Homo sapiens: one gene and its partners. The protein of the gene in region 1 interacts with the protein of each later gene in a pairwise test. Each region holds a gene or a part of one and is shown in the gene's direction. Other genes may lie near its edges. The genes, in order: RNF112, A2M, PARK7 and ELAVL4.

Region 1 (6,887 bases):
AATCTGACTTTACAGATGATAACTCGAGCTGGGTTTACCAGCTAACATCATGTAAGGGGTACTGGGACATTAAACTAAGTGGGTGTTACTTTTGATTTTGAAATTTTCTTTTTGTGGTTTGGAGAGTCTCATTTTTCCATTAGGTTTCAAACATTCTCATAGACCGTAGACTCAAGAGACTCATGGAGCATAATGGATAAAGCGGGGCTGCCCATAGACATGGACCCAGGACCACCACACCTGGCCTCCCTGGGCCAGGGGTTCCCCTTGGGGCCCTAGATAGCATCAGAGGCCTCTGGCTGCAAAGGAGCAGGGCCCATCCTTTATCCCATCCTTTATCCAGGAGCAGGCCTGGTGTTCCTCCCGTCTCCTATCCACCTGGTCGGCCTGTACCGTGCCTTGGGGAATGCCCTCTTTTAGGTGCCCGGGTATGATCCCAAGTGGATCTGTATTTCCACTTGTGGCCTTGACTTCCCCAGCAGCACCCTCAGCCTCCCCGCTTGCCCCTCTAGTCTGTTGTCCATACAGCAGCCAGAGTGGGAGGGGCCAGCTTCCCAGGTATGCATCCAGTGCAGCCACTCAAGGCGAGAGCTCAGAAGGGCTGTGTGCTTGGGCTTCAGTGCTCTGGTCACCATCTTGAAACAATCATTTTAGCATTGAATTTGTGCTTTGTGAGTGAAGTCTGATGGGAAAATGGCGCCTTCACTGGGAATTCGGAAGCTGGTTTGTGTGTGTCCCATGTCCCACTGCCTCCCCAGCACAGGCTCTTGGCTGCCCACTCCCAGGCTCCCAGTGTCCCCACCTCTGCCCCACCATGGCTGCCCCCCTTCATCTGGAGGCCTGAATGCAGGCTCAAGGAGGACTGGGGACTGCTGGATTGGCCCCTGGCATCTTAGGGTGTGACAGAGTGGTGGCTCTCCCCTCCCTGGGCTGAAACTTAGCATAGGCTTCTCCCCGACCCCCAATCCAGGTATTGAGCGTGTCCTAAAATGACTGTGGCAATCTGGAGGGGCTGCCTGTTGGCCATGTGTGGAGGCAATGTGCCATTAGAAGAGGCAATGGACTTTCTTGCCTCTGGTGGGGGCTTTGCAGTTACATTTTTCACCAAATCCACAAATTGTATAGCTAGCCTGGCCAGGCACCATGGCTTATGCCTGTAATCCTAGGACTTTGGGAGGCCGAGATAAGCAGATCACTTTGAGCTCAGGAGTTTAAGAACAGCCTGGGCAACATGATGAAACCCCGTCTCTACAAAAAAATACAAAAAGTATCTGGGCATGGTGGTGTGCACCTGGGGTCCCAGCTACTGGAGAGGCTGAGTCTGGAGAATTGCTTGAACCCAGGAGGCAGAGGTTGCAGTGAGCTGAGATCACACCACTGTACTCCAGCCTGGGTGACAGAGTAAAACCCTATCTCAACAACAACAACAACAACAACAAAATTGGCCAGGCGTGGTGGCTGACACCTGTAATCCCAGCACTTTGGGAGGCCAAGGCAGGCAGATCACCTGAGGTCGGGAGTTCAAGACCAGCCTAACTAACATGGAGAAACCCCGTCTCTACTAAAAATTCAAAAATTAGCCAGATGTCATGGCACATGCCTCTAATCCCAGCTACTCAGGAGGCTGAGGCAGGAGAATCGCGTGAACCTGGGAGGCGGAGGTTGCAGTGAGCCGAGATCATGCCATTGCACTCCAGCCTGAGCAAGAGCGAAACTCCATCTCAAATAATAATAATAATAACAATAATTAATAAATAAAATTATATAGCCAGCCCTAAGAGTGAGGCTTCTACCATACATGTTTGCCCTGCGGGATCCCTCCTGAGATACTGACTGGTGAAGTCCCTATCCCCTCCTTTGGCCCCTGAGGGCCTGCATGACCCAGGCCTGCTCTGCCCTTCACCTTGGTGCACCCATCTTTGCATCAAATATTCCTGCCAGGCCAGCCGGACCTCCTTTGTTCCCCAGAATGGGTTCTGTGTCCCCTCTCCTCTGGGCCCTGTACCTGTGGTTTGCCCTGCCTTGACAACCTTTTTCTACCTCCTTGCTTATCAGGACAGCCTGACACCCCTCCTCACCCTCCCCGCATCCAGGTTCTCACCCAGATCATAGCAATGCCTTTTAATTGTCCAGTTGGGATCTTGGGGAGGATGGAGCTTTGTCTCTCTTGTTTCCAGCTGTACTGCAGTGTGAGACACAGTACCTGGTGCTCAGTAAGTATCATTAAGTGAAGACTGATTGTCCCATCTGCTTCCTCACATCTTTGCCTGGTGATGAGCAAATGGAAGCTCAGAGAGGGCAGTGACTCACCAGCATTTCATGCTGGGATGGAGGCAGGTTTAGAGCTTGAATCTGAGTCCAGCGCCCACGCTTTCTCTCCTGCAAGGATGAAAGGCTACAGGGGTTGAGAAAACCCTCCCTTCTGCCCTGAAGGCAGAGCTGTGGCACGGCTCAGGCTTGCTTCCTCATCCCCTGAGTGTGAGGCTTTGCTGCCAACACACAGGGGCTTGTCCCACCTGGGGCAGGAGGAGGCAGAGTCTATGGCACTGCTTCTCTGAATCTGATTGATTCAGCCCCACAATCTCAGGCCCTCCAGACACCAAAATGAACAAGATCCAGCCCCAGCTTCAGGGGTGTCTCCACCTGCTGAAGGTGGTCTCTGCTGAACTTTTCTAGGTTCTGAATCCCACCTCACCCCAACCCTTCTGCATCCTAGCTCATAGGATGTACGAATGACTCCCGTGCCTGGACTAGTGGCTTTACATAGGTAATGGTGGCTCCTCAGAGCACAGAGAGGTGCAGTGGAGTCCCAGAGCCCCTGAGCCGAGAATCAAGCCCAGATCTGCCTGGCTCTGAAGCCTGGGCTGCGCCAAGCCTATCACATATCCCAGCCCTCAACTGTCCAAGAACAAGACCGCACCCAGTTGGGAGGGGTGAGGAAAGGAGGCTCTAGGGAGGCCACAGCACCTGCACTGGGCCTAAGAGGGTGTCCCAGGAGGGATGAGAAGGAGCAGAGCAGCCAAGCCAGGGTGCAGAGGCAGGGAAGAGTGGGGCGAGAGAAGGGTGGAAGGAAGGTTCAGCCCAGTCCGCAGGCCGGAGAGTTTGGATTTTGATCTGATGGTAGTAGGGAGACACAAAAGGTGTTTGCGCAGTGTGAGGTCATCTGTGCTTGGGGAGCCTATGCTGGCTGTGCACTGGGGAGTGGAAGGGAGGCAAGGAGCCCAGTCAAGAGGCCATTAGAAGGTCCAGAGGTGGCTCATAGTTTTGATAGATTTCATCCTGCTCAAGTTTGAGGCAGAGTGAAAGCTATTGGGAGGGAAATACACCAGAGGACACGGAGGGCCCATGAGTGCTGAAGAAGGCTGCAGCTGGGTTGGGCGTCGATGACATAAACCTGAGAGAGAGCAGGAGGATGTGCAGGGCCATGTGAAGTAGGGTCTGCATTTGGGGGCTCTGTACATAGTAGGTACTCAGTAACTGTTCATTGGATGAATGGATGAATAACTCCTTGTCTCTGGGTCAGCTCTGGTCTTACCCTCTCCTGTTTCTCACACCTCTTCTCTTTGCCCACCCTGTCCTGTGGCCCTGGGGAGACCTCAGCTGGCCCAGTAGAGGCAGTGCTGGCCCATGGTTCTGCCGGAGGCGCCTCCATGTTTGCGGGTGCACCGCACGCCTTCTCCCTCTCTGTCCCCCTCCCCCTCCCTGTCCTTATCTTTCCCTTCTGTCTCCATGGCGACTCACCACCTCGGCTTGCCTGCATCCCAGCCTCTGCCAGGGATTCTGAGCCGGGCTCCATCCCTCCCTCCTCGGAGCCCTGCTACCCGCAGCCGTGTCTCCTCCCCCTGGGGTGAGTCCAGCAGCAGCCTCCTCTTTCCTGACTGTCACATTTCTTTTCCAGCTCTGACCGGGAGTCAGCTCCTCGGGGATACCATCCCCCGACCTCACCTTCTACCTACCGCAGCCTGCTAGCCTTTCCGGGAGAAAAGGCATCCTTACCTCTGGTTGAAGGTCTCGGGGCCTCCCCCTCTGCATCCGGACCCTCTCCCCATCCCAGCCTCCCATGCCAAGGCCCGCCTTGTCAGTCACTTCCTTTTGTCATCGGCTTGGCAAACGGGCAAGTCTTCAGTCCTAAGATCGGGAAGGAGAGTGGGGTGGGAAGGGCCCTCCTTGGGCTGGGGGATGGGCCGGGGGTGGGGAGGATGAGGGGTCCCTGGAAATCCAGGGTGAAGATAGAAGTCTGGATTATGTTCTAAATCTTTTTTTTTTTTTTTTTTCTCCAAGGAGAGAAAACAGAGCTTCATGGGAAACAGCGGCAACAGTTGGTAAGTAGCAGGGCCTTCCAGGCTGGGATGGGTGCAGTGAGGCCAGGCAGGTCAGTTGAAATGGCCGGTCCTGGAACACAGAGCCCGGCAGCCCAGCCGGGAGGGCTGTCCGCCTGAGGCTGGATCCGCCAGGCTGTGGAGGGAGGGACAGGAAGAAGCAGGTGGGTGCTGCAGGGAGGCAGATGCCAGCTCAGAGCAGAGAGCGGAAGGAATCTTCTAAGATCCAGAGCCATCTGCCCAACTGCAGCACAGGCTGATGGCTTCTCCTCACTGTCCCTGTAGCATGGGGTTGTGGAGGGTATCATCCCTGGGGGCCTGGCTGAAGTCAGCACCTCATGGAGGGAGCCCCGCTGTAGAACGCCGGGAGAGGCTCTTCCCAAGCATTTGCACCAGGCACTGTGCAGACAGCTGCACACGCCTCCTCTCGGATGGCCACCCCAACGGCCCCATGAGGGGTATTGCTATCCTCTCCATTGGGACAGTTAGGAAATTGAGGCCCAGAGAGGGGAAGGAACTTGCTTGCATTTGCATGGCTGGGATGTGGTGGAGTCCATTCCACTCAGATTTTCTCCCTCTCAGACTCTCTCACCATTGCTCTGCTGCCCCCACTCTGAGGCCCCCAGGTCCTAGGACACATGTCAGTGAGGAACGGGCAGAGCTTGGCCTCTCTGGGAGCAGCTCCGCCTGTCCATGGAGGCACTGATGGAAATTGGGTTGGCACAAAGGGACCTCCACTCCCAAGCCATCAGTCTTCCACCACAACCCTGGCCGGTACCCCCTGCCCCCAATAGACATCCTGCTTTTCAATGGCCTGTTTTGCCCCACAGGTCCCATACACCTTTCCCCAAGTTGGAGCTAGGCCTGGGGCCCCAGCCCATGGCGCCCCGGGAGCTCCCTACCTGCTCCATCTGCCTGGAGAGGTTGCGCGACCCCATCTCGCTGGACTGTGGCCACGACTTCTGCATACGGTGCTTCAGCACACACCGTCTCCCGGGCTGTGAGCCGCCCTGCTGTCCTGAGTGCCGGAAGATATGCAAGCAGAAGAGGGGCCTCCGGAGCCTGGGCGAGAAGATGAAGCTCCTGCCGCAGCGGCCGCTGCCCCCTGCACTGCAGGTCTGGGGACTGGGCCTAATCAGTCAGACCCAAGAGGAGGGGGTGGCTTTGGCCCTATTCTAGAACATCAGGACACAGAGCTCCAGGCTGAACACATTCCAGGGTCAGGAGCTGGTCCTGGATGCTCAGGGGCCCCTCTCTTCTCCTGGCCCAGGAGACGTGTCCTGTGAGGGCGGAGCCGCTGCTGCTGGTTCGCATCAATGCCTCTGGGGGCCTCATCCTTAGGATGGGGGCCATCAACCGCTGCCTGAAGCACCCTCTGGCCAGGGACACCCCAGTCTGCCTCCTCGCTGTCCTGGGGGAGCAGCACTCAGGGAAGTCCTTCCTCCTCAACCATTTGCTTCAGGGCTTGCCGGGCCTGGTGAGGGCGGGGCGGGGCAGGAGGGAGGCGGGGAGCAAGGATGGGGGTTCCTGCCTGGGGGAAGCTGGGTCTGGTATTCCGGTCTGTGGGGACAAGGAACCGACCAACTGATGCTCTCCCTTCTCTCCCCTGCAGGAGTCTGGTGAGGGCGGCCGGCCAAGAGGAGGAGAGGCATCCCTGCAGGGCTGCAGGTGGGGCGCCAATGGCCTCGCCAGGGGCATATGGATGTGGAGCCACCCCTTCTTGCTGGGGAAAGAAGGGAAGAAGGTGAGGGGGGAAGTGGCAGAAGGAGGTCAGGGATGGGAAGGGGAATCAAGAAGGGCGTCTCTGGGGTGAGGATAGAAGATGGGGATGGGACGGGGCAGGGTTGGGAAGAATGTGGGAGAACAAGGCAGGCCTGGCCCCTTGGGTCTTTCCCTACCCCCTGCATAGGTGGCGGTGTTCCTGGTGGACACAGGGGATGCCATGAGCCCTGAGCTGAGCAGGGAAACAAGGATCAAGCTCTGTGCTCTCACCACGATGCTGAGCTCCTACCAGGTGATGGGGGGCGCTGATGTTGGCATCCCCACCCCACACACCCTTCTCCAGCTCAGCTTCCTCAAGGCCAGAGCATCTCACAGGCTTTGGTGTCTGGGGTCCTGATAGGTTCTGGGGCTGCCTTAGAAGGGGGAAGGTGCTCCTAGTTGGTGAAGGTGGGAACGTGGGTTATTCCTAAAAGTGGGCTGATGGTCCCAGGGGCAGCTGAAGACCTGATGGATCACATTACCCTCCAGGCTTGTCTCCGGCCTTGAGGCCAGCCCAGCCCTGCAGCCTTCGAGGCCCCCATACTGGCCTCTCCCATACTCTGAGGCCCACAGGCTGCCTGCGAGCTCCCTACTCACCAGGGCCTTCCCCAGTGAAGTCACCCGGCCTCTGTAATCTCTCATACATGTTGTTCTCTCTGATTCCAGATCCTCAGCACCTCCCAGGAGCTGAAGGATACAGACCTGGACTATCTGGAGGTAAAGAGACCTCTGATGTTGGGGCATCCCCCACCCCCACCCTCCCCACTAGGGCTGGACCCAAAGGAACTAGGTGCCCTCCTGGTCTGG
Region 2 (3,746 bases), on another chromosome or scaffold:
GGCAGGAGAATCACTTGAACCCAGGAGGCGGAGGTTGCGGTGAGCCGAAATCATGCCATTGCACTCCAGCCTGGGCAAGAAGAGTGAAAAACTCCATCAAAAAAAAAAAATGCAGATCCTCAGCCCCCATACACTAGACATTCTGATTCATCAGGTCTAGAGTAGGGCCTGGTCTCTGTGGCTTTAACAGGCTTCCTAAAAATTCTACGCACACCACTTTTACAAACCACTGGGATAAGATATTTGGGAAGACTTACGTGTACCTTTTAGAGCTGTGGAATGCTTAACATGGACATAGAAGAAGAAAATATTTAAAAACACAGAAAACCCTAATCCTTTCCTCCCCTGGATCCTCAGTTACACAGGGAGCCGCTCTGCCTCCAACATGGCGATCGTTGATGTGAAGATGGTCTCTGGCTTCATTCCCCTGAAGCCAACAGTGAAAATGGTAGGTTTATCATAACCCCAGACTGCCCTATTTTATTTAATGATGTATGTATCCCCAGCATAAGACAATACTAATATCAAAATACTATTAAAGTCAATCTCTATCAAAGCCTTATCCTTTTTCCAGCTCAGAAATATAATCACATGTGTTTGTATGAATGCTGACCATGTGCAGAGCACTGTGCTAGGACCCATGACTACAAGAAAAAGATTGTCAGCAGGTTCCTGCTTTTCAATTTCTTCTTAGCTTAGAATTTTGCTAAGAAGATAAAAGATATGAACACGAACCAGTGAAAAATATGAAAATGACTGATTGGCATAAACTATAAGTATTACAGAAGTTAAAAGAAAAATAGAGCAAGCAAAACAGGAAAAAAACTCCTTATGAAGAAATAGAAACTGAATTGAACTTTGAAATATGAGTAACTACCAAGTTTAGGATACTTAGCTGTCTTTTCTTCAGATAAATAACTTTACACATTAGTCGTGTGTTATACTAATAGTAAACCCTTTATGCCTTTCATTTTTAATTGTATTACATTATATATTTCCTTACAAAAAGCATTTGAAGAATTCTACCCTCAGGGTTATTTTGGCAATACAAAGATTTTTTCTCTGGATCCCCCAGGGGTTTCATCTATTTATTAACATTTGTGGTATTTCAATTTTCTTCAGCTTGAAAGATCTAACCATGTGAGCCGGACAGAAGTCAGCAGCAACCATGTCTTGATTTACCTTGATAAGGTAAGAGAACTTCCAGTCTATTTGCAAAAAAACGTAGATAATAATCCTCTAAGGGAACATCTGGGAAGGTAAATGCATTTTAGAAACATCACTTCCATGCTAGAAATTTGAGAATTCTAATGTTAACTCTAAAAGAATGTTCTTCTCTCCTTTATTTATATTTCACCAGGGATTACAGGTAGAAATGGCTTATTATGATCTTGGGATATGAATATTCCTAAAATCCCATAAGCAAGAAATCTTCACAAAATGTGTTTATTATGTTGACAAGTTTTTTGGATACCCAGTAATATAAGGAAGTAGCCCTTGTGATTAGTCAATTATTAGTTAATTATCAACATACTCAACAACAATATGAAAGGGAAAAAAAACTGTCAGTCTCCACAAGGACTTGAACCATAAAATAATAAGACCAGTTCACCAGTAAACCAATCTGATTTTATAGATATGTGTGGTAGGAGAGTTTGTTCATGCATAAGTTGATGGGAATTATAGTTTACAAATTTTATGAAACTTAAGCCTGGGAAGATCAACCTTTTAGATGCCTCTTTGAGTCTACGCAAGTATTCCTGCAAGACAGAGAAGTCAAACTATACCAAATCTCTGGATATTAAAAAATGAACACAGTTAGTCATCCAATAAAAAGTATATATCATTTACCCCCATGAACAGAGCTATGTATTGGCATTGACAGAGGTATATGCGTTATGTTAGTTATTTAAGAAATAATCTGGAGAATTTATCATCCCCTCTGAGAGATTTCTGCACAATTTAATTAAGGACCCTATAGTGTGCTGTAGGATAATAAAGCTTTTCCCCCAAAAAACAGGTGAATACTTAAACTAATTCAAAGAGAGAAGAAAGCTTCCTGAAAGGTCATTTAATTGACTTTTGCTTTCCAGGTGTCAAATCAGACACTGAGCTTGTTCTTCACGGTTCTGCAAGATGTCCCAGTAAGAGATCTGAAACCAGCCATAGTGAAAGTCTATGATTACTACGAGACGGGTGAGTGAGAGTGATTTTCACGTAGAAATATTTAATTCCTGATCACAGAAATTCAGGTTTAGGAGATGTGTTGGGGTTATTTATTACATTAAGTAATTACATTATCACTTCATTTTGTCTCCATCAAGTCTGATGCCCCTCTTTTTGTCTCTTATACATACATTATAGAAACAACCTACATTATAAATTTATCAACTACTAATACAAAACACCTGTGGGATATTTAGTTCCCTTTTCATCAGATAAATGGACTGTATGACAATATGAGATTTAAGTAAGTAGAACATCTGAAGAGTCCTTCAGGAGTTTGGGATAAAAGAATATATAAAACACTATATTTGAAAGGAGAATATAAGGTAGCAAGCAACACATCAGATGAATGATGCTTATGTTTCTGGTACAATACTGTTCTTCCCACAACAAACTCCTTCCTTGGCCTGTATCCCACAGATGTTTGCTTTCTTTCTCACTTCATGTAATGATTTCTGGTTTTTTGTTGGTTTTTTTTTTTTCAGATGAGTTTGCAATTGCTGAGTACAATGCTCCTTGCAGCAAAGGTAAGCCACTCACACTCCTCCAAAAGGCAGTCAGAGCTCCTTCAGCTTGCCCCCCAAACCTTCTCCTTCATAAAACGCTGGGTAAATATTTGTCAAAAACATCAAATTACTCACACTGCACATTATTATAGAAAAACACATTTATTGGAGAGGGCCGCTGACTCTGTCAAACCTCAGAGAGTCCATAGGATTGCTTATGGGTAATGATTTGGAATAGATTTGGTTTCCCACTGTACTGATTAGGTTTCCTTGGGCACTATGCTACCCAGAACTAAGGGAAAGAATACTCTCTGCTCATGGAGACCCAAATCTGTCTTAATTTTTTTTCTTTCCAATGTCACAGATCTTGGAAATGCTTGAAGACCACAAGGCTGAAAAGTGCTTTGCTGGAGTCCTGTTCTCAGAGCTCCACAGAAGACACGTGTTTTTGTATCTTTAAAGACTTGATGAATAAACACTTTTTCTGGTCAATGTCTTTCCCTGTTTCCTGTTCATTCAATAAATATCATTGTACATTTCCATATGATTCCCAATAGAATACCAAGATTAAACTTAAAGGAATCAAGTGCTGAAGGACTTCAGAATACAAAAAAATGATACAGTGATGTCGGTCTGAGTAGGCTTCATGTAAGGACTGTGGGGAAAGAAGAAAGTATTGGGTTATGTACTAGGAAAGTGTAAAGTGTGTTTGGTTATGGGAATACCCTATGAAAAACCCAAAGGGTGAATTTTTATGAGAAAATAAAAGACTGACTTCACCAGAAAAGACTTTTTACATTAAAATGAAGTAGAATGAAATACAACATTGAACATGTCATATTGAGAGGCAAGATAATTGGGACTTGACCTGAATTGGGAGTGATGTGTCCTATGTTACACCAAAATCTGCCACTGATGAGAGTGATCAGTCAGTTAACCTGGGGTTTCAGATTCAATAATAGATGAGCTGAAAATAATGAAGGGAGGATTCATGCAGAAGCACGTTTTCTCAGA
Region 3 (7,034 bases), on another chromosome or scaffold:
CAGATCACCTGAGGTCAGGAGTTCAAGACCAGCCTGGCCACCATGGTGAAACCCCATCTCTACTAAAAATACAGAAATTAGCCAGGCGTGGTGGCGGGCGCCTGTAATCCCAGCTACTCGGGAGGCTGAGGCAGGAGAATCGCTTGAACCCGGGAGGCGGAGGTTGCAGTGAGCCGAGATTGTGCCGTTGCACTCCAGCCTGGGGGACACGAGCGAGACTTCGTCTCAAAAAAAAAATAAAATAAAATAAAATAAATATTTGTCAGAAGAGTGAATGAATAAACGAATGAATGAGTGGATGGTTTGGTAAACATCAACATCAAAACATGTTGCTGTTGCTATTTTGTTCAATACAGTAGGCTTTTCAAAAGAAGTTATGGGCCAGAGGTCCTGGGGACTTGATACATTCGAGTATCAGTGGTTCTCAATGTTCTTTTGGTGCACTTGCAAGGTCAAAGCAGATGCTACTGAGGGGCCAGGTGTGGTGGCTCATGCCTGTAATCTCAGCATTTTGGGAGGCCAAGGCAGAAGGATCTCTTGAAAGCCAGGAGTTTGAGACTAACCTTGGCAACATAGCCAGACCCCCATCTCAACAAACAAACAAACAAAAAATTAGCCAAGCACAGTACTGCATGCATGTAGTCCCAGCTACTCAGGAGGCTGAGATGGGAGGATCGCTTGAAGGCAAGAGTTAGAGGCTGCAGTGAGCTATGATTGCACTCCAGCCTGGGCAGCAGAGTGACACCATGTCTTTCAAACAAAATGTTATTCGCCTTTTTTCTTCTCAGTCTTTCAGGAGTGACATCAGAGTAGGATGATACCATCATCTGAGAATTTATTATTGTGTTTTAAAAATTTCCCAGTTTTATTAGGTTGATGTAAAAGTAATTGTGGTTTTTGCCATTAAAAGTAATTGGCGTGGCACAGTGGCGCATGCCTGTAATCTCAGCACTTTGGGAAGCTGAGGTGGGCAGATCGTTTGAGGTCAGGAGTTCAAAACCAGCCTGGCAAACGTGGTGAAATCCCGTTTCTACTAAAAATACAAAAGTTAGCTGGGCATGGTGGTGCACGCCTGTAATCCCAGCTACTCGGGAGGCTGAGGTGGGAGGATCACTTGAGGTCAGGAGTTCGAAACCAGCCTGGCTAACATGGTGAAACCCCGTCTCTACTAAAAATACAAAAGTTAGCTGGGCAGTTAGCTGGGTATGGTGATGCATTCCTGTAATCCCAGCTATCAGGAGGCTGAGGCAGGAGAATCTATTGAACCCGGGCGGCGGAGGTTGCAGTGAGCCGCGATTACGCCACTGCACTCCAGCCTGGGTGACACAGCAAGACTGTCTCAAAAAAAAGTAATAATTTTTAATATGGCAGATGTTCATAGATATAACCCACATAAAAGCTAAAGGGATTCTAAGACCTAAATGTTTGAGAACCGTGGCATTAGGGGCTGGGAAGAACCACAGAGGTTGACCACCCTGGCAGGTCTTGTACGTGGGCTTACTACAAGAGTCACCACTAGCCTTTTGACCTGCCCTGAGGCTCAGGTAATTATCTCTGCCAAAGGGCACTGCAGTCACTGCAGCCCAAGCAGCTGCTCCCCTCTTTGGAGAGAAAGTCACAGATCCTTGAGTTTGGTTTTCTTTGGCTCTGCTGCTGTGAAGCAAGCCTCAGTCCTAGATTCTTTGACCAAAGGAAGAAAGAGTTTGGGCTGAGTTTGTTTCCTTATGATTCTGCTGAAAGTAAAAACCACATGTCAGTTTGTCCTGTGCCACAAAAGTAGCAAAATCACTTAAGGTCAGGAGTTCGAAACCAGCCTGGCCACCATGGTGAAACCCCATCTCTACTAAAAATACAGAAATTAGCCAGGCGTGGTGGCGCGTGCCTGTAATCCCAGCTGCTTGGGAGGCTGAGGCAGGAGAATCGCTTGAACCTGGGAAGTGGAGGTTGCAGTGAGCCAAGATTGCGCCATTGCACTCCAGCCTGGGCAACAAGAGTGAAACTCCGTCTCAAAAAATAAATAAAATAAAATAATAAAAATAAAAATAACAAAAATTAGCAGGGCATGGTGGCGCATGCCTGTCGTCCTAGCTACTTGGGAGGCTGAGGCAGGAGAATCGCTTGAACCCGGGAGGCGGAGATTGCAGTGAGCCGAGATCGTGCCACTGCACTCCAGCCTGAGCGACAGAGCAAGACTTCGTTTCAAAAAAAAAAAAAAAAAATCAACCACATTTGGCTTACTGTTTTGTGCTGAGGCTAGATGGAATGCCATGCTAAGAAGCATGGGCCTTATAGTACTTTAAATCAACATTAAAAAATAAACAGGCTGGCTGTGGTGGCTCATAGCTGTAATCCTAGCACTTTGGGAGACTGAGGTGGGAGGATCACTTGAACCCAGGAGTTCAAGACCAGCCTGGGCAACATAGTGAGACCCCCCCACCGACCTCTACAAAAAAATATTTTAAAAAATCAGCCTGGTGTGGTGGTGCACACTTGTAGTCCCAGCTACTCAGGAGGCTGAGGTGGGAGGATCACTTTGAGCCCAGGAATTTGAGGTTACATTGAGATGTGGTGATCACACCACTGCACTTGAGCCTAAAGGACAGAGCAAGACTTGGTCTCTTAAAAAAAAAAAGTAAAAATAGGCCAAGGGCGGTGGCTCACACCTGTAATCCCAGCACTTTGGGAGGCCGAGGCGTGCGGATCACAAGGTCAGGAGATCGAGACCATCCTGGCTAACACGGTGAAACCCTGTCTCTCCTAAAAATACAAAAAATTAGCCAGGCGTGGTGGCGGGTGCCTGTAGTCCCAGCTACTCGGGAGGCTGAGGCAGGAGAATGGTGTGAACCTGGGGGGCAGAGCTTGCAGTGAGCCGAGATTGCGCCACTGCTCTCCAGCCTGGGCGACAGAGTGAGACTCCATCTCAAAAAAAAAAAAATTATATAAAAAACAGTAAAAATAGAAAACACACTAGCAGTGTGTTTATACCATTGAATATCCTGCACCACTGTTGTGGGCACTACACCAGAAATAGGAAAAAATGTGATGATGAGCTGAGCTAATTGAGATGAGGGTTATGGGAATGGAACAGAGGAGTGATGGAAGAGATTTGGATCTTTTAAATTGGCAAACAGAAAAATAAGATTCTTTTTTTTTTTTTTTTTTGTTGAAATGGGAGCTTTGCTCTTGTTGCCCAAGCTGGAGTGCAGTGGTGCAATTTCGGCTCACTGCAACCTCCACCTCCCAGGTTCAAGCGATTCTCCTGCCTCAGGCTCCCGAGTAGCTAGAATTACAGGCACCTGCCACCATGCCCAGCTAATTTTTGTATTTTTGGTAGAGACGGGGTTTCACCATGTTAGCCAGGCTGGTCTCGAACTCCTGATCTCGTGATCCGCCCACCTTGGCCTCCCAAAGTGCTAGGATTACAGGCGTGAGCCACCGCACCCAGCCAAGATTATTCTGAAGTGTTGCAGTTAGGGATTGGAAACATTTTGAACACAAAGAATATTAGCCTAGTCCTTAATATTGAGTGAATGAGGAACGCAAATTGGAAGGGAGTCTATGTTGAGAAGAAAATTAAATGATATTTACTTTGAGTAGGGGAGGGGGAGGAAGTGTGGAGTTGGAGGAGTGGACAGTTGTCAGCTGAGATGCCCAGGTCTAGGAATGAGGCCTCTGGAAGCAAGGTCTTGGCCACCTGGAGGAGCTGGGGAGTTGGCAGAGGTGGTCATTTTGCATGTTACCACAGGGTGGTGCTGTTGGCTGCAGAAGGGGACATGGTCAGCTGCGCCCTCTGCACTGTAGTGCAGAGTACAGAGCGTTTTCATCCATCAGAATCCCAGGTCCTGGGAGAGTGAAACGTCTCTTCTCCAGTATTCCAAATAGGGTTCTGACGCCCCAGAAAGCAGTGATTATGAGCTTACCTGATAAGTATGAAAGACATCAGTAAATTCCTGAATCCAACTGTAACATAAATTTATTCACATCGTAGCAGTGATTTTATTACCACCTTGAAGGGAGCAGCCTAAAAATTCTCGTTCACCGATCACTTTCCTCACTGTGCTATCATCTATTAAAGTTTACTTTAAAATGCAAGATGATGTAGGAATTTCTTCTTAAATTCTTACCAAATAAAAATTAAAAACAATTTATAAATCCATTCAAATAAAAATTGATAATTATTCAATTCTTACGGACTTCTAAAATTTGCTACCATACATAGCTGTCTTGTGTGTAAAAATAACGTGGAGAAGAGACATTTGAGGCTTTTGATTTAAGAGCTATAAATCAGGACTTGGTCTGAAACTGACAGCTGATATTAGGCAGAAAGCTTATGTAATTAGGTAGTATTTGTGTGATCTTCCTGTTTGTAACAGCTACGGTCTGAGTAGCTTGTGGGTATATTATATAATTCCTTCCTTGGAGTCTTGTTGAAAAATGAAAGGACAGTAAGACCAAGACCTCTCAGGTTTGCTGACACTAAAAGTGTACAAACTGTGCCACAGGATCTTAGCCATCCAGGGCACCTTAAGTGTTTCCAAGATCAAGGTGCTGTTCTGAAACGTATCCTTCTAAGTGTCATGTGAGGCCTTAGAAAGAATGTTTATATGTGTGGCTTAGAGGAAAAAGGTAGAATGAATACTTTGTAAAAAGCTTTAAGATGAAATAACAATGAAAGGTATATAAAATCTTTGTTTTTAATCCTTATTTAGGACCATTACATACGCAATATGCTTGTGACCCTCCCTGAAGTTGGCCGTTTTCAGTGAATACATTTAAATAAAAATCTCAAGTTAGGACCTGCCAATTTGGAAAGACTTCATCAACTGACACTTCCATGTGGTTCTTTGCTTAAGTAGCTTTCATCACGTGATGCTAGTGCCTTTATATCTCACACTTCCAGGCACTTCACAGGCTATCTCCTTCAAGGACAGTGTGCTGTCCATTTTAATCCTACCACCTGGCATACTTGGGTGGATAGGTGGATGAACGAGTGTTAATTTCCCATTTTATTTATTTATTTTTTATTTATTTTGAGACAGAGTCTCGCTCTGTCGCCCAGGCTGGAGTGCAGTGGCACGATCTTGGCTCACTGAAAGCTCTGCCTCCCGGGTTCACCCCATTCTCCTGCCTCAGCCTCCCGAGTAGCTGGGACTACAGGCGCCCGCCACCACGCACAGCTAATTTTTTGTATTTTTAGTAGAGACAGGGTTCCAGCGTGTTAGCCAGGATGGTCTTGATCTCCTGACCTCATGATCCAGCCGCCTTGGCCTCCCAAAGTGCTGGGAATACAGGCATGAGCCACCGTGCCCGGCCTAATTTCCCATTTTCAAGTAGAAAATAAGATTACAAAAGAGCAATAAAATCCAGAAGTTCAGAGAGTACCAGTTGCCTTTAGCATGTAACTAAATCTTTCCTTTTACTAAGAGTGAGGTAAGAAGTTGAGCCCGCCCCAGTGATCCTCCCCCTCCTTTGGACTCCTGGTATATGTGGTCCCTGTTCTGGGGATGGGGAAGGTGAGAGAGGTGAGCACATTTTGTTTATCTGTGTATGCTCTGCTGGTATCAAGGTAAATCTTCTTGAGTAAATGGTTATTGAAGTATTTTGAGTTTCTGTGCTTTTGCCAGATGTGCTCAGCAAATCGTTTGTTATAAACATACTTTATCTCTCATACTAGGAAGTGTTTCATTTCAGAATCGTAGCTGTATGTTTGGTAAGAGCCTCTTGATTTTGAAGAATACTTTGCTGTTGCAGTTTTTGTTGTTGTTAGAGAAGGGGTCTGTGTTGCCCAGGCTGATGTTGAATTCCTGGGCTCAAGCAATTTTTCTACCTAGGCCTCCCCAATTGCTGGGATTACAGGCATGAGCCACTGTGCCAGGCACTATTGCGATTTTTTAAACATGGGCTTTTCTATATCTGCACTTAGATCTTTTTATTTTTATTCTTAGGTCCTACTGCTCTGTTGGCTCATGAAATAGGTTTTGGAAGTAAAGTTACAACACACCCTCTTGCTAAAGACAAAATGATGAATGGAGGTAAGTATATGCTTGTTTTTGTTTGTTTGTTTGTTTTTTGAGATGGAGTCTCGCTCCATCGCCCAGGCTGGAGTGCAGTGGCGTGATCTTGGCTTACTGCAATCCCTGCCTCCCGGGTTCAAGCGATTCTTCTCTCTCAGCCTCCTGAGTAGCTGGGATTACAGGCGCATGCCATCACACCCAGCTAATTTTTGTATTTTTAGTAGAGATGGAGTTTCACCATGTTGGTCAGGCTGGTCTCAAACTCTTTTTTTTTTTTTTTTTTTTTTTTTTTTTGAGACAGAGTCTCGCTCTGTTGCCCAGGCTGGAGTGCCATGGTGCGTTCTCTGCTCACTGCAACTTCCGCCTCCCGGGTTCAAGTGATTCTTCTGCCTCAGCCTCCTGAGTAGCTGGGATCACAGGTGTGCTCCACCACGCCTGGCTAATTTTTGTATTTTTTAGTAGAGATGGGGTTTCTCCATGTTGGTCATGCTGGTCTTGAACTTCTGACCTTGTGATCCACCCGCCTCAGCCTCTGAAAGTGCTGGGATTACAGGCATGAGCCACCGCGCCCAGTCTCGAACTCTTGACCTTGTGATCTGCCTGCCTCAGCCTCCCAGAGTGCTGGGATTACAGGTGTTAGCCACCGCGCCTGGCCCATATGCCTGTGTGTGGTTTTTTTTTTTTTTTTGAGATGGAGTCTCTCGCTCTGTTGCCCAGGCTGGAATGCAGTGGTGTGATCTCAGCTCACTGCAACCTCCGCCTCCCGGGTTCAAGGGACTCTCCTGTCTCAGCCTCCCGAGTAGCTGGGATTACAGGCATGTGCCACCACAAGTTTCTTGTAGACTGGGCACAGTGGCTTCCGCCTGTAATCCCAGTACTTTGGGAGGCTGAGGCGGGTGGATCGCTTGAGCCCCGAGTTCGAGACCAGCCTGGGCAACATGGTTAAACTCCATCTCTACTAAAAATACAAAAAACATTAGCCAGGCATGGTGATGCACACTGGTAGTTGCAGCTGCTCAG
Region 4 (7,637 bases), on another chromosome or scaffold:
TTACTAGGCTGATTACATTTTAATGTTTGAAGAAAGTGACATTTTTTAATTAGTGTTTAAGACATATGGTGAGTGTACAAATTAGCTTATTTCATACAACCAGAATTTGATGAGAGCAACTCCTCCTTCTCACTCCCCAGTTAAAAATTGTCACTTGAAACTTAATATATGCAAGGAGGTTAAATGGTATTAAGTGATGCCGTCTTGACTTAAAGATGAAGGACATAGTCACTATTGTGTATGGCTAAATACGGCCTGGATGGGCTGGGAAAATATTACTGTCAACACCTGTGTTTGCAAGAAAATGTGGAGGTTCCAGACCTTTAATTTTGTCCAGCCAAGAAAAGAAAATCCCAGGTATCTGTGTGTGTTGGTTTCTGTTTTAGACACATGTGGAACATAGAATGGTGTTGCATGCTTTATAAGTAATAAGATCCTCCTTAAAATCAGGCCATATAACAATATAAGTGATGTAATTTATTTTTGTTCAGGTGGTTCTATATCCTTTTAACATACCCCCAATCACTTGGAGCTTTCAACTTGGGACATTCTGTTTATTCTTGGCAGAGGAGCAGATTAATTGGAATAGAGTGATACAAAGGAGATGCCAAGTTAGCTATACATCCAAAATAGTATACGACAGAAATGTTCCACTTCGAGGCAGATCTTCGGGAAAAAGAACAGCAATGGGTAGAGACATGTGATTGGCTTGCTCTTGTGGTTGTTTATCACTATTCATATAATTGTATTTTTAAAAGAGAGGCTTAATATTTTGTATTTTTTTTCGGTGTCTTTACTTTTAAGCTTTCAGTTATTTCTTATCAGGAAAGACCCACATTAAATAAACCTAATTTCTACCCAGAAGAAAAGTTGCACCCTTAAACTCTTGCCTCCATCTTGTATGTGCTTCATCCACATGCACACTTTTGAGTTTTCATCACTGTGTGTGAATATTTTTCTGTTTTTGCTAAAGAGAAATATTTTCATGAGGTTTTTGGCCTTCCCCATTGCTCTGTGTTGATTGTATTTTCCTTGTTCATCCTTTGCTGAATGAAACAAAGCTTGTTTGTGTTTCATTCTTCGCAGTTCTTATTAGAATTTGTGGCAGTGTTTTGTTTTGTTTTGTTTCATTTCCTTGCTTTAAGTCAAGAGAAGGAATTTTATTTATTTATTTTGACAAGATATAGTGAGAGACAATCTTGCCTGTTAAGATGCTAGTGTTTCTCATGTCACATTTTACACCCAAAAGCTATTCCAAGGGGAAAAAAAAAAGAAATCTTTTAAGATGGTTCATTTGAATCTGTGCACTCTACCCACCTGGTGGTTATATAGTGAACTGTTACTTTAAAGAGTAGTTTAAACACCAGCCATGTTTGGGGCAGGCTGCTCTTGCAAAGAGAGCAGTACATATAACAGGAGTCTACTGTGTGTGAGATAAGGGGAAAATTCAGCTCACTGACTAGAGGTTTTAATGTACGAACTCTAGGGAAATAATATATTGACTGTTCCGTGGTGCGCAAGAAAATTGAAGAACCCTTTGCAGACGGAGTGCTTTGCAAAGGATTCTATCTGTTTCTCTTAAAACAAAATCTGTGGCAAGATGTTTGAAATCAGCAGGACGCTTAATGCTGCTTTGTTAAATAATGAGGTAATATTTTGTCACTTTTTTCTGGGCAGCATCTGTTTTTCCCCCCTCTTCTTTTTTTTCCCTATATTTATGAAGGATTCCTTTTTTTCCGCCTCATGGAAGTCAAGGAAATACAATTCACGCTTCCATTTCTGTTCCTTCCTTTTGGTGCTTTTGGAGAATTTGGTTGTCTTTTTTTATTTGCAGTTTCAGCCGGCTGCTGTTTCCTAGCCCATTGTGCCACGTAAGGCTTCTCCACTGCGCGGAGTAGGTAGTTATTAACGCTGAATTGGCTTCTGGTACAGTCCATCTGGACTCTGTGTGGGAAAGCTGGCTGCCGGCGACTGATGCTGAGATATCTGCAACCTTTGGGATGTGTGCATGGTGGCAAGGGGCTGACTGATATGAGATTACTTCTTTTAAGGGAAATTGTCATTAATGAGTCAAGAAACTGCTCATTTATGGTAAGAGGAATACAGCGGCGCTGGCAGCCCCACAGTGCTGGGATATCATTTTTAGGTTGCCTTAGCTGCTTGAGTGAGACAAGTTTCTTTCTGTGGTGGTGGATTGTGGCAGAAAAAAAAAATCATGCATGACTGGGAGACTCGCCTGCCTGATTCTTGAGATAATATATTGAGAATCTGTTGCTTTACAAATGTCACATCACTGATGTAGCGGTCAGCCCCTCACTCTGAAAGATGAATTGTACTATTGGAAATGCGATAATAAGGTTGACTTTTCCCAACAATAGGATTCTGCCTTTGTCTTTAGAGAAAAGGCCTCTGAGGACATTTGTGCATTTGTTTGAGGATTCTGTTGAAAGACTTTAAAGTGGAGGTTTGTGGAAAAGTGATCAATATACAAAATGCATGAATTTTTAGCCTAGCAAAACCAGCTAGTTATTTATACTGTATATACAGCTACTATTTTGGAAAAGTGGCCAGAATACCTTTTAATATACCTAATGTTAATTTATGGTTCAATAAGTGTACTGAGGTTAGTATGGATGGGAGAAAAGGGTTTTTAAAATTTTTATCTTTTATAACCTCCAGAGAAATCTAAGTAAATATTTTGTTCCAAGTGAGCTGTTTTTATTTGTGTTTGTCAGCATTGTCTTAATGTTTACTTTTCACAATATTTTAATATTGGTGAAATTGCACTCAGAGTTTATGTTGTTGATTTGGGGCACACATACCTACTCTGTGTATATATGCTGAACCATTTAGAACACTTTAACCTGTGAATTCACCCTCAGTACACAGTTCAACAGATACTGTAGTACTATTGTGACTCACAGGACATTTTATACATTTGCTAAAGAAATTACTTTAAAAGTTTACTTAACTGAGTATTGTTCCACCTTAAGGAATTATAGTTTTAACATTTGTACTTTTCTATTTCATGTATTTTCATTTCTAATAGCTGAACGTATTCATACTCAAGTCTAATGGATTATGCAGTGTACCCAACACATATTGTTTTATGATGTATCTGTATTTTCTGAAGTGTGAATATATATGTATGTTTATATGTGTGTGTTCATGAAACAGCATCTTGGACAGAATAGTTTTAATCTTGAAAAATGTAAGGTTATTTTCTTTCCTAATAATTTTTCACAAACCCATTTATTCTTGGACTTTGAAACCCAGAAATATAGCTTATTTTTTGGTCTGTATGTCTACTCTGCCTAGTTCTGTCTCACTGTCAACTCTAGTCAAAGATTAAAGATTACATTGAATTTTGTATTTGGTAATATGTGTTACCACTGTGTATTTATTGAAGAACAAATTGATTAAATTATGAGTTAAATAAATAGTGACACATTAGTCTTTTGCATAGGTGTGAAGCATGAACTTCTCAGGTAAGCCACTTAAAAAACCCAAACCAGAACAAAAAATACACTACTGAAGGCTTGGTAGTGTAGAGGTTGTTAAATGTGTAAATAGGCAGACAAACTGTATACCTCACCATACACTTGCTAAATGTCTCTTTGCAAATCTCTTAAGAGGCCAAAGAAAAAAAGACATCCCTTTGAAGGAGAGAAGCAAAATCACTTATTTAGTTAAGCAAAATGAACACTCTGCACAGGTTTTGAAATGAGGCTGTTGTCAAAAGCATGTTTTACCTTTCTCTAAAGGGGTAGGAGAATGTGTTTTAGTGGATTTTTAAAAATTCAGATCATGTTCCTATCCAACTTGAAAAATAAATTCATTTAAGTAAATCATTCATCATCCTCAGTTTTGAAAAGCTCAGACAGAAGGCAGAAAGGTAGAGGCTGACAGCTGCCCCTCCCTTACCCCCACCATTTTTTTTCTTTTTGTTTATTAGGAAATAGTTTTCTGAGACAAACTTGTATGAACCTAGTTCACGGAGCAAGCTTAATCCCCAACTTGCTTGCTTTTGAAATGTTGGCCATGTTAGCTGGAGAAGGAGCATTACTTACTAAAAATCAGCAATATCTGGAAATAATAAAGTTAAATTGTAGATGAATTAGCACATTAAAGTGCTTTTGTTGTACCTTTAAGCCTACAGGCAGATCATTAAATATGCATTTCGCTAGAAAGCAACTGTCTAGAAAGATAAGGTGGTTGAAAATATTCTACGGTGGAAAAGCCCTCCATCAGAGAGGTGGCACGGTTCGGCCCTCAGGATGGGAAAAGAAGGACCCTCCCACTGTTAGTTTAGGTTTGCAAGCCTCCAGTGACCTGCAGTTGTTACAGTACTTTTGAGCTGGGAGGAGGGAAAAGGTAAAAATACAAGTATGGCTGTTGTTGCTTCAGCCGGGCCTTAATTACCAGACACAAGAAGCAGTTCAGAAATCTGGTCTCTGTTGTTGTAGAGGTCACCAAATCATTAACATCGTCAATCTGGCAGTAGCTAATTTAAATAGCACCTGATGTTGCAACGCCTCCCTTCGTTTCCCCAGCCAATCAGATCCAGGCTTCGGCTGACAGATGGTCCCATAAATGGATGTAAAAAGGGGAAGCTTCGAGCCAATTTCAGCAAGGCTCTGTTCAGTTGTTCTTATCTACATCCTAGAATCGGGGGTTTCAGCTCACTGCTCCTTTTCTTTTTTTTCTTTCTCTCCCCCGCCCACCCCCCCAAAAATAATTGATTTGCTTTACAATCATCCACACTGTGTTTTGTGGATCTTTAATTATATATAACAATAGTAGTCATTTTAAATATATATTCTGAAATCTTTGCAAATTTTAACAGAAGAGTCGAAGCTCTGCGAGACCCAATATTTGCCAATAAGAATGGTTATGGTAGGTATGACTAGATTTATAATCTGTTGTTTGTGTTGCTGGAGGGAAGAAAAGCATCTACACCTTGACCAGTCTTATGCTTGCACAAGAGTTTAGTTCTGTGCTGCTGTTTGGTTCCTACATTTACTATCTCTTTTGTGTAGAGAGTGCGGGTAGGTCCTTTTATTGAAAAGCAATGGGGATATAAGATTGTCATTTTTAGCAAGTCGTTGTCAGTTTTCCCTTCAACATAAAGGCAAGGGGTGGAGGGGGAGGGCTGAAATAATTGCTGGTTTATTGAAAGAGGTTATATTACTTGAGACATAATGGCAAAAGAAGGGTTTTCTTTTTTGTAAGGGAGAGGGGGTTTGTCTACGTGCCTGGGTTTTGTGGGGCTGGGGGTGGATGCAGCGGGGTTAGGAATCTCTCAATTTCCGTGCTGGAAATTTAAACCTCGAGAGGCAGCTCCTGGATACTGAACACTGAGATGGGCAGTTGTGTTTCGGGGGACTGCGCAGTCAAAACGGCAAAGAGAGTGATTTATTTGGGCTTCAGTAAATGCTGCATCTTGTATTTCAAAGAGTTTCCTGTCATGACCTCATAAAAAAGAGGAGGCGGCTTGTATGTGTAGCAGTGCCTGGCGTGTTGAGTTGTTGCTTCCTTCTCTGGGCAGCAGCTCTGTAAGAAGGAATGTCAGCTTTTACATAACGTTCCTTTCCGCTTTTGACACACTGTGTGAGGGTCCATCTTCTTCTGATCACAGATGGAGTGGAATGGCTTGAAGATGGTAAGTGAAAAGAGGAAGGCAGCCTGGAGGTCCCAGCCCTGTGTGTGTGTGTGTGTGTGTGTGCTTGTATGTGTGTATGTGTAAGGATGCTGGACTGTGCATCGTAAATCACTGTGCTGATCGTTTGTGTGTGTATGTATGTGTGTGTTTATTAGTATTTCTCTTTTCTGAAAACCAGAATCCATCTCCAAGTGTAATGGCACTGCATGCACACAAGGCACACACACTGCCTCTTCCAGCAAACACACATTTTAGCCAAGGAAGGTTGGTGTCTTTTTTGACAATCAATGTCACCGTCACTGTTGGCTGGCGTGTCCACCGCCTCTGTGAGCCTTCAACGGAATTACACGACTGCTAAAGTTAAAGGCACATTTCTTTTTCAGTCTCATGCTAGGAGTGATGGGGAAGGATGGGAATGAGGGGTGGAGGAGGTGAGATTCAGTACCAGCCGATGCAATTGTGAAACAGGACTTTCGGATGTGGAAGGGGAAGTGGAAAACCTTTCTGCCGAAGTAGTAAATCTATTTTTAGCATCATCTTTTTCTGAAAAAAGAAGCAGGGAAACTCCTTGAGTGCCGCTTCTGTCGCCTGATGTTGACCCTGAAGATATGGCACAAAATGGCATGATTAGATGCCACGAGTGCCCACTTTGACTTTGAATTTTCACCAGCAATAGGTTTCACAAGGTTTCAGAGCTGGGTATGGGGGCAGGCTGTAAATTCATAACCATCTTACTTATTTTTCCCTAGAAAAGCCTGGGGAGGACTTTTTGCTCTGCATAGATGTTATAACAAAGCTGTGGTCTTTTTCCCATTCTTAGAGGATTGCCTTTGTCTGGCTGCTTGTTTTGATGGGTGTAAAACAAATAAGATTAGACCGAGCAGCCCAACTGAAAGCGATAGCTGGGAGGAAAACCCAATGAAAGGTTGCCGGGGAAACGAACAGAGGAGAAGCCGAGTAGGGAGCAGGTGGCTATCATGAGAACACACTGCAAACAGTGTAAAAAAAAAGGGGAGGGGGACAGGACCTCGATTATCTTTGCTGTTCTTTGTGGCCAGCCCAACTTTAATTATTCGTTATTAATAGGTGTTAATTACATTTCTAACTCTGGTTTACAGTGATTTTTAGAAATCTATTTTTAAGCATCTGTTCTGTCTCCCCTGTTTTTGTGTGTGTGTGCGTGTGTGTGTGCGCGTGTGGTTTTTGTTGTTGTTGTTGTTGTTTAAAAAACCCAGAGAGGAGGTGAGGGGGAAGGGAGGGTAGGGAATCTTGCTTTTTTTTTTTTCCTTTTTCCCCCTTTTCCCTGGTGTGAAATTGTACATGCGAAAAATCGCAAGGAATCCTGTGAGACCATTTGAAAAAATGTAAATTATATTGAATGAAGTTGACGGAAGCATAATAGTGAACTCCCACAGCTGATAGGTTCTGCAAATGATTTCTTAGAAATTTCCAGCAAATATTCATAGGAAAAATATAGGTAGAATAGATCTACCCTAAGCAATGATTTGGGGTTAGGTGATTTTGGTATTTTTACTAAATCGGATGTTGATACTATAGTTTCAGGGGAATTCATTGTACCTCTCATTTTTTTCCTCAGTAGAAATTACTTTACAAAATAATAAATGAAGAGCTTTTTGCTTTCCTTCTTTCCCCATGCCCACAGTCACAGGATCCATCAGGCTTGCACTCTCATAACCACTGCCTTCCATTTGGCATTTGGTCCTGATTCTGGTCTTGGCACAAACTGAGTGAAAAGCTGATTTTTATATTAGTGTCTTTGGACGTCTGGGACCCATGTGTGCACTGGGTGACAAGCATCTCTCTTTTTTCTCTAAATGTGCTTTACTAATAGTCTCTTTTTCTCATGATGGTGGGTACCATAAGGATTGAAAGGTGTAGTATTTGGGTGAACAGGAGATAGCGTAAAAACAATTGAAATGGTGATCTGTTAGGGTTTTTTACTAAAGGACAAAAT

What was found.
Region 2: the proteins of RNF112 (region 1) and A2M interact in binary tests that used the Homo sapiens proteins (3 or more experiments, as listed by UniProt).
Region 3: the proteins of RNF112 (region 1) and PARK7 interact in binary tests that used the Homo sapiens proteins (3 or more experiments, as listed by UniProt).
Region 4: the proteins of RNF112 (region 1) and ELAVL4 interact in binary tests that used the Homo sapiens proteins (3 or more experiments, as listed by UniProt).

The regions. Positions count from the first base shown.
Region 1 is NC_000017.11:19,407,349-19,414,235, forward strand, and holds the start of RNF112 (RING finger protein 112), read left to right. Parts: upstream 1-3,883; 5' UTR 3,884-4,060; coding exon 4,061-4,114; intron 4,115-4,122; exon of another isoform or gene 4,123-4,151; intron 4,152-4,281; coding exon 4,282-4,322; intron 4,323-5,149; coding exon 5,150-5,435; intron 5,436-5,589; coding exon 5,590-5,796; intron 5,797-5,931; coding exon 5,932-6,063; intron 6,064-6,228; coding exon 6,229-6,333; intron 6,334-6,746; coding exon 6,747-6,797; intron 6,798-6,887. UniProt on the Homo sapiens protein: E3 ubiquitin-protein ligase that plays an important role in neuronal differentiation, including neurogenesis and gliogenesis, during brain development.
Region 2 is NC_000012.12:9,067,190-9,070,935, reverse strand, and holds the end of A2M (alpha-2-macroglobulin isoform a precursor), read left to right. Parts: intron 1-357; coding exon 358-448; intron 449-1,122; coding exon 1,123-1,191; intron 1,192-2,093; coding exon 2,094-2,196; intron 2,197-2,711; coding exon 2,712-2,753; coding exon of another isoform or gene 2,754-2,884; exon of another isoform or gene 2,885-3,096; coding exon 3,097-3,113; 3' UTR 3,114-3,228; downstream 3,229-3,746. UniProt on the Homo sapiens protein: Is able to inhibit all four classes of proteinases by a unique 'trapping' mechanism. This protein has a peptide stretch, called the 'bait region' which contains specific cleavage sites for different proteinases.
Region 3 is NC_000001.11:7,971,707-7,978,740, forward strand, and holds part of PARK7 (Parkinson disease protein 7), read left to right. Parts: intron 1-5,945; coding exon 5,946-6,032; intron 6,033-7,034. UniProt on the Homo sapiens protein: Multifunctional protein with controversial molecular function which plays an important role in cell protection against oxidative stress and cell death acting as oxidative stress sensor and redox-sensitive chaperone and protease.
Region 4 is NC_000001.11:50,104,303-50,111,939, forward strand, and holds the start of ELAVL4 (ELAV-like protein 4), read left to right. Parts: upstream 1-4,617; 5' UTR 4,618-4,887; coding exon 4,888-4,896; intron 4,897-5,530; exon of another isoform or gene 5,531-5,638; coding exon of another isoform or gene 5,639-5,662; intron 5,663-7,637. UniProt on the Homo sapiens protein: RNA-binding protein that is involved in the post-transcriptional regulation of mRNAs. Plays a role in the regulation of mRNA stability, alternative splicing and translation.